Regions from separate parts of the Homo sapiens genome. Here all the other regions are linked to region 2. Evidence: fine-mapped expression QTL. A gene starts in region 2. Each other region holds a variant in brackets. All regions are shown on one strand. Distances are from middle to middle. Region 1 overlaps GTPBP4 (GTP binding protein 4). Region 2 holds the start of GTPBP4 (GTP binding protein 4). Region 3 overlaps GTPBP4 (GTP binding protein 4).

Region 1 (2,756 bases), 22 kb before region 2:
CCTGTGGGAACCAAGGAGTGGCAACATGGGACATGCAGATGGCAAGTATTGTATAAAAAGAATGTTCCAGAGAGCTCAGCTGAGAGAAGAAGGCAGGACAGCAAGTATTGTATAAAAAGCATGTTCCAGAGAGCTCAGCTGAGAGCAGAAGGCAGGACAGCAAGTATTGTATAAGCATGTTAGCATGTTTCAGACAGCTCAGCTGAGAGAAGAAGGCAGGATAGCAACTAATGGAGGACACGGTCTAAGGATGTTTTCGTTTTTTAAAAAGATGAGTAAAACTTGTGGACTTTTATATGCTAAGAAAAAGCAAGTAGGGAGGGGATTGAGGCAGGAAAAAGATGTGACACAGCGGAGCCCCCAAGGAAGAGGGTCCAGCACAGCAGAGTCCATTAAGGGCCTGGCGGAGATACAGGGTGGGGAAGGTGGTGCAGGGGGCACAGTCAGGATGGAGGGATGCAGGAGAATGAAGGGGCCCAGCATCTCCACCAGAGTCTCGGGGTGGGGGGAAGAGGTGCAGGAGGCACAGTCAGGATGGAGGGATGCAGGAGAATGAAGGGCCCAGCACAGCAGAGCCCATCCAGGGCCTGGCGGAGACACAGGGTGGGGGGGAAGGTGGTGCAGGAGGCACAGTCAGGATGGAGGGGTGCAGGAGAATGAAGAGGCCCAGCATCTCCACCAGAGTCTCGGGGTGGGGAAGGTGGTGTAGGGGGCAGAGTCAGGATGGAGGGATGCAGGAGAATGAAGGGGCCCAGCATCTCCACCAGTGTCGGGACAGGGAAGAGGTGCAGGAGGCAGAGTCAGGATGGAGGGGTGCAGGATAACGAAGGGGCCCAGCATCTCCACCAGAGTGTCCGGGGTGGGTGGGTGGAGGCGGCGGGAAGGGGGCAGGCCAGCATAGCAGAGCCCAGCCAGGGCCAGTATCTCCACCAGAGTCTCAGGGTGGGGAAGTGGTACAGGGGGCAGAGTCAGGATGGAGGGGTGCAGAATGAAGCGGACAGGCCCAGCTGAGCCGAAGCCATGCTGCTATCTTCCAGCAATACTACTATAATAAAAAGGAAAACAATCCGCAATTTAAAAAGTGACACAAACCTTCATGATGGCTGGATCAATATAATCAGCTATATTATGGCCTTCCCAGATTTCTGGTATCTTATCATGTTTTTCAGACAAATTCATTAAATCCCAGTACTCTAAAGTTAAAAAAAAGGTGGTTACGTTTACAGCAGTTTTTAATATCTTCAAGTACTACGTGCGCAAAATGAGTTGTGACTGACGGCAAATCAACGACTCCACTGCAGAAGAGAGCACGACGTGCAATTCCACATGCAGCAGCATCAACACATCAGCCTCATTCAACACCCACACGTGGAGAAAGCTACAGAAATCACCCCACCATCCCAAAACAACAGGAAACAACACATCAGCCTCATTCAACACCCACACGTGGAGAAAGCTACAGAAATCACCCCACCATCCCAAAACAACAGGAAACAACACATCAGCCTCATTCAACACCCACACGTGGAGAAAGCTACAGAAATCACCCCACCATCCCAAAACAACAGGAAACAATGGAAGAACCCCCACTGAGTGCTATCAGCATGCACCTTTCTTTGAGACAGAGTCTCACTCTGTCGTCCAGGCTGGAGGGCAGAGGTACAATTTCTGCCCACTGCAGCCTTG[T/A]CCTCCTAGGGTCAAGTGATCCTCCCACCTCAGCCTCCCGTGTCACTGGAACTACAGGCACATGCCACCACACCCGGCTAATCTTTGTATTTTTTGTAGAGACGGGGTTCTGCCATGTTGCCCAGGTTGGTCTCAAACTCCTGGGCATAAGGGATCCAAAGTGCTGTGATTACAGGCGTGAGCCACTGCACCTGGCCCTCAGGATGCAACTTTTAATCTTCAAGAAATTAAAAGTTGACAAATAGGCTGAAACACTTTTATTACTTATTAAAGTCTTTCCCCCATTTTCTGAAATACTTCACGTCCAATTGGCATTTTATAATAATGATCACACTCTGGCCCTTACTCTGAAGATCCAAAATATAATCATCTCCCATTTCCAGCTCAAGATCTCGTTCCTGCAATAGAAAGAGAAATTATCATCAGCTTCATTTTGCCTTTCAGATCCAGAAATGCTCTGCCCCTTGTCACTTGAAACAATCTTTTCTCCAATCCTCTCAGTATCAGTGGGGTTCACCTTCCATTTCTGGTAGGAAGGCTGTTTCTTATCTCCCTGTCTGCGGGGCCAGCCTTTGGGTTCTGGTAGGAAGAGGCTGTTTCTTATCTCCCTGTCTGTGGGGCCGGCCTTTAGGTTCTGGTAGGAAGAGGCTGTTTCTGGCCATCTGGGGACTGTCTATCCCACTCATGCATTTGGTTCACGGCCATCTTCCCTCAGGCCAAAGAGCCCCATGAGAGAGGCTTCTGCAGGGGGACTCACTGCTGTGTCCGCAGCCTGACGGGGCCAGTGTCTGGGCACCCGCGGCTCCTGTTCGATGCCCCAGGCCCCCACGATGGGCACACACAGCCTGCCTCCCCCCATGAGAACACTGGGCGAGAGCTTCGGCAGCATACCCTCTTCTTCCTGGACTCCTCAGTTTCCATCCTCTTCCTGCGAGCCACCACTCCTTCAGGGATGAAAGGGGGCCTCTCCTGAGAAGATCCCATATAAAATATTTATGTGAAATGCCTGCTGAATGAGAAACTTACAAAGCCGAAAAAGTAGAAACAAATTCCCTACGTGCAAGGGGAAC
Region 2 (2,756 bases):
AGACCAGTCTGGCCAACATGGTGAAACTCCACTTCTACTGAAAATACAAAAATTAGCCAGGCCTGGTGGCGCATGCCTGTAGTCCCAGCTACTCGGGAGGCTGAGGCAGGAAAATCACTTGAACCTGGGAGGCGGTGGCTGCAGTCAGGATCACACCACTGCGCTCCAACCTGGCCAACAGAGCGAGACTCCATCTCAAAAAGAAAGAAAGAAAATACTACAATCGATCAAGAGATGTGCCAGAACAACTGTCAGGAAGAAATAAGAAATGGTGGAGAGAAGTGGGGAAACAACTTTTGCTATGAAGGTAAAATACGAGACTCCCACAAAGCTTTCCAAGGCAAGCTCATCCCGTCCTTGAGACCTGAAGAAAAGGAGGCACTGACGAGGGGAAAACAGTCACTCTGCAGGGACTTCAGTAACTCCCTCTCGTGCAGGAGTCCCTGGGAGGCTCCAGTTGCCCGTCAATGTCTGTGTAATTGCGACCCAAATCGAATGTTCACTACATAAAAACGTGACTTCTTAAAAGTCCTAATACTAGGGCCGGGCGCAGTGGCTCACGCCTGTAATTCCAGCACTTTGGGAGGCCGGGGCGGGAGGATCACCCGGGATCAGGAGTTCGAGGCCAGCTTGGCCAACGTGGTGAAACCCCGTCTCTACTAAAAATACGAAAATTAGCTGGGTGTGGTGGTGCACGACTGTAATCCCTGTTACTCGGGAGGCTGAAGCAGGAGAATCGCTTGAACGCGGGAGGTGGAGGTTGCAGTGAGCCGAGACTGCGCTCCAGCCTGGGAAACAAGAGCGAAAAACTATGTCTCAAAAAAAAAAAAAAAAAAAAAAAGTCCTAATACTCAACACTTGTTGACTCATTCTTGCCACACCAACCAACGCTGTAAAAATTTAGTCTGGGCCTACTATGGTCTGAAAAGGAACAGGTATTCCCAAATCTAACAGTGAAAGAGAATGACTTAAAAATTATGAAACGTTAAATCACGAGAACAACGAACCCAGGATTCCTGAGAGGGGAGGGGGCTACGCCAAACCCAGAATCCGAAGGCTCATCACGGACCACGGAACGCTTCCTCCCTCACATGTCGGGGTCCCCCTCCACTCGCCCACATCGTCACCCGGGGCCCCTCCAGGGAACCCAACTCTGGGTGTACCCCCATCTCTGGGGGCCCTCAGTCTTTGGGTGGACCACGGTCTTAGGTGGACCCCGGTCTCTGGGGGATCCGATCTCTGGTGGACCCCGGATTCTGCTGGGGGAGGGGAAATGATCCCGAGTACGCGGCCAGACGGTCAGGCCCAGGAGCGGGGGATGGGCGAGCGGAAGGCGACCGCTCTCCCACGGCTACAGGCCCGGACCCTCCCCGGGGACCCAGCTGAGGAGAACGCGAAAGTTGCAGTGGCCCTCCCGGGGCCGCCTACCTTGGCGGACGGCACCACCGTAATTTTCTTGAAGTTGTAATGTGCCATGCCGGCAGCCGTATGCACGCGGGTACTTGGCACTCCCGGAACTTCCGCCGTCGGGCGCAGGTGGGACTTCCACTGTCGGGCGGTTGAGGTACGTCACTTCCGGGAGCTCAGCCAATCGTGTTCTGCGTGCTCTACGGCGCTTTCCGCGTCGCACAGCGCACCCGCCCGGCTTGGAGGTCAGCCACGGAGGGCGTGTGAGGGCCTCAGGAGCGAGGGTACAGAGGAGAGGACGCCCGGGTTTTAGGGGGAGCGCGGAGACTAAATTCCTGCTGAGTAAAGCGGGGGTTTCCGACAGACTGCCCTGCGGGTTTCTGGAGCGGGTTCAGGCCCCCAGCCACGCGCCCTGGGCCAGGGTTGGAGGGTCCGGGGTCTTGGGATTTGGGAGTTGCGGGGCTTAGGAGTCCAGAGGGTCTAGGGGATCCGGGAGTCTGGGGGTCCTGGGTCGCGGCGAGCCCCGCAAAGGAGGAGGAAGCCGCGCGTGCGGGGCGTGCCCAGCCTCTGGGTGTGGAGCAGATGACGCCCCTACCCCGGCCTCGCGCGTGGGACTTGATCCCGGGCCGTGGTGAGGAGGCCCTCGCGGCTTCCCTGCAGCCCTGCTTTCTCGTGCTTGTTAAATCCCAAAACGGGCGGAGAAGGGAAAGCCTGATCTAAGGCAAAAGAGGTGCAGCTGGTTCCGCGCAGTGCCTTAGGAGAGCCCAGGGAACAGTTGCGAGAGACAGTCCTGTGGGGTCCAACTGAGGAGAAGGTTGATGAGGATGGAGCCTTTACTGCTTTTATGTTTGTGAATAGAGTGGCCGCTCCCTTTGGGAACCCAGGGCCACATCCCTTAAATTAAACGTTAGGTAGGGCTGACTCAGTCAAGCAGTGTTCAGAGCTGCTGACTATATATTAACTCGTTTAATTTCTGCAACAGCCTCATGAAGTGCATGGGGAAACAAAGGCACACAAGGCTCGAAAGCACCCCGTGGTTGTGCAGCTGACAAGCTAACAGGCAGCAGAGGTGGGCTTTGAACCCAGGCAGCCTGGCTCCAGCAAACCTGCTTCTAACCATTAGCTATACTGCTTCTCACGCATCTGGGATGCCCCCCACTCTCCAATCCTTTTAAACAAGTCCTATTATTCTTACGCGAAAATACCTCTCATAAATTCCCAGCATTCCAATATTGAAAATCATTCTGGGTCATGCTTTTCTCATCTATTAACTATGCTTCCATTTTTGTGTCACAAGGCGGATAAGCATACCTCCTACATCTTTGTGGCACTTCTAAAGGAAGCTTCTA
Region 3 (2,756 bases), 29 kb before region 2:
TTTTTTTGAGATGGAGTCTCGCTGTCGACCAGGCTGGAGTGCAGTGGTGCGATCTTGGCTCACTGCAAGCTCCGCCTCCCGGGTTCAAGCCATTCTCCTGCCTCAGCCTCCCAAGTAGTTGGGACTACAGGCGCCCGCCACCACACCCAGCTAATTTTTTGTATTTTTAGTAGAGACGGGGTTTCACCGTGTTAGCCAGGATGGTCTCGATCTCCTGACCTCGTGATCCGCCTGCCTCGGCCTCCCAAAGTGCTGGGATTACAGGCATGAGCTGCCGCGCCCGGCCATACTGTTGTTGTTTAACACAAAGTAAACTATATGTTAAGTTTTGGTGTTTAATACGGAGAAAGAATTTCAAAAACCAGACCTGGTATTTTTTTTTTTTTTTTCACACGGAGTCTCTCTCTGTCACCCAGGCTGGAGTGCAGTGGCACGATCTCGGCTCACTGCAACCTCCGCCTCTGGGCTCAAGCAATTCTCCTGCCTTAGCCTCCCGAGCAGCTAGGATTACAGATGCCCACCACCACGCATGGCTAATTTTTGTATTTTTAGTAGAGATGGGGTTTCACCATGTTGGCCAGGCTGGTCTCGAACTCCTGACCTCCTGATCTGCCCACCTCGGCCTCCCAAAGTGCTGGAACTACAGGCTTGAGCCCCTGCGCCCAGCCCAGCCCTGGTAAATTTTTAAAATTGCCACATGTAATCCAGAAGTGTGATTAACTAAAGTCCTTTCCTCAGCTATAATGTTGATTGTGTGACTTGATAACTTATCCGTGGTGGCTCTTGGACCCCTGTGTGTCTTTGGAGCTCCAGGAGCACACGGACCCCTGGGCAGGTCCCTCCGACCCCACAGCTCTTCACCCCAACGCTCCCCAGCAGGTGCTTTTGAGGTGGCATTGGCGGTGTTTTTGTGTTTTACTGAACATGTAACTTCAGGGACGGGCCACAGAAATAGGAGAATGCCCATATTTAATTGCCTAATGCCTCCAGCAACATTTTACTCCCCCAAAAGTATTTTTGCTTTAAAACAAAATAGAAATGTCATGTTGTTTGCCTTTTTATTTGGCCAAATCCATAGCGACTATAACTAAACCAAAACATGAGCTAAGTAAATGAAAACTACTTTCTTCTGGAGGTTTATTTTGGATAAAATAGTTGAAGACAGACTACAATGAGACATTGTAAAATAAGACTAGAAAATAATTTAAGAGCGTATTTTAAGCAC[G/A]GGATTCCGACACACTCATAAACGTGTTTGCTCCCAGCTCTTACAAAAGAAAATAAGGTTTTTCTCCATCAAAAACAACCTAGTTAAACCAGTAAATCTTCCCAGTTCTGAAAATCTGAAGCAACTGATACTCCATTAAATGTGGAAACACTGTCTACTCAAAATATTTGTAATATTATGCAGTGACAAAAATTTCCCACACCTATATAGGGTTAACCATAGTTTTCAGCAAAGCAACAAGTGCTTTACTTATTTTGTCTTTTTCAGTTTATACAGAGCTCCAATTTCATGAAACCATACTGTGCCAAACCAGGAAATAAACAGCAACACTCTAGCGAAGCCACGCCAACCAAACGGATACTATCTCCTGTCCTTTTTACCAGCTTTCCTCTTCCCAGACAGCAAGTGCTTGGGCTTCATATCAAACACGTGTCTATCCGCCTCCCCTTTCTTCCCCAACCGATTCATCTTCTTCTGAGCATTCTTCATCATAGTCTTGGCTTTCTTCACCATCTAAAAGGAGGAGAAAAAAATAAAGTATGTTCATTACTTAAAACCAATTTTCCATTCTGAATTTCAACTACTGGGTAACAATCTGTTTAATGGCTCAGGTCTGCTCAGCGAAGAGACCCTGTTACATCTCTTTTCTCTTAAGCCCAGCACAGTTATCCCTGTTACATCTCTTTTCTCTTAAGCCCAGCACAGTTACCCCTGTTACATCTCTTTTCTCTTAAGCCCAGCACAGTTACCCCTGTTACATCTCTTTTCTCTTAAGCCCAGCACAGTTATCCCTGTTACATCTCTTTTCTCTTAAGCCCAGCACAGTTATCTGCAGGAACTCAATGAGTATTTTTGTATAAAGACTGGATGAAAATCATACCCAGGACAAGCTTTATACCCAGGACTAGATACACTTTAGACCTAGAAGGTTAGCACACATCTGTTTTAACTCCCTCTTACACAAGCTAAGGACTCAGGCCCATGAACCTGTTTTCCTCAGGTCTGACTGACAAGTGGCAATGCCAATATTAACAGCCAGGTTTCAAGATGGCAATGGCACAGAGGAGTGAAGCTCAGGCTTCCATGAAGGAGACTGCAGTTTATACACAGACTCTCCTGCATCTCCATTACCACAACGCTGAAACTAAAAGTTGTTGTGTTTAATAAAAGGACGTTTCAGCAAGACAGACTGTGTCCATCTTAAGTGTCTTTGCCAAAAGACGCTACAAATAAACTAAATGTGACTCAAGCTCTCCACCTGGGGGGAACAATCCTGCAACCTAAGGATGAGCAGGATCACCCGCCAATCAACCCAGGAGTTCCCTCTGCTGTTCCTCCCATGGGGGGCTTGCTGGACTTGAGGCCTCCTGGTGCTCAGCTGTGGCCACTTCCTGGCCCTCTTCAGACAGCAGGGTCTAAGCCCAGACTGCTAGTGCTGTCAGACCATGCTCTGGCCACCCTCCGCAAAAGCAAAGTGCCAAGGAGGGGTCCATCCAGGGCAGCTGTCAGGGGCATCCACCTGCACCCTGAC

Evidence for each region. PIP is the estimated chance that this variant, and not a neighbour inherited with it, causes the effect.
Region 1: its variant is fine-mapped to the expression of GTPBP4 in whole blood (TOPMed, PIP above 0.99). The same link has a PIP of 0.9 or more in NK cells and blood mononuclear cells.
Region 3: its variant is fine-mapped to the expression of GTPBP4 in NK cells (Gilchrist 2021, PIP 0.95). The same link has a PIP of 0.9 or more in B cells, CD4 T cells, monocytes and monocytes after LPS.

The regions. Positions count from the first base shown.
Region 1 is chr10:1,008,857-1,011,612 of GRCh38, reverse strand. GTPBP4 (GTP binding protein 4) reads right to left here. Exons shown (of 17, transcript NM_012341.3): 11 at 2,578-2,655; 12 at 2,033-2,084; 13 at 1,093-1,193. Among named protein-coding and RNA genes, the nearest start is that of IDI2-AS1, 12 kb to the left of the region's middle. RefSeq lists enhancers at 1,994-2,494, 2,495-2,756. The variant T/A (reference allele first, on the strand shown) is at 1,687.
Region 2 is chr10:987,200-989,955 of GRCh38, reverse strand. It overlaps GTPBP4 (GTP binding protein 4), which reads right to left and starts at 1,522. Exons shown (of 17, transcript NM_012341.3): 1 at 1,429-1,522. The coding sequence starts at 1,476. It also overlaps a transcript of LARP4B not described here.
Region 3 is chr10:1,016,057-1,018,812 of GRCh38, reverse strand. It overlaps GTPBP4 (GTP binding protein 4), which reads right to left. Exons shown (of 17, transcript NM_012341.3): 17 at 1-1,738. The coding sequence ends at 1,586. Among named protein-coding and RNA genes, the nearest start is that of IDI2-AS1, 5.2 kb to the left of the region's middle. The variant G/A (reference allele first, on the strand shown) is at 1,226.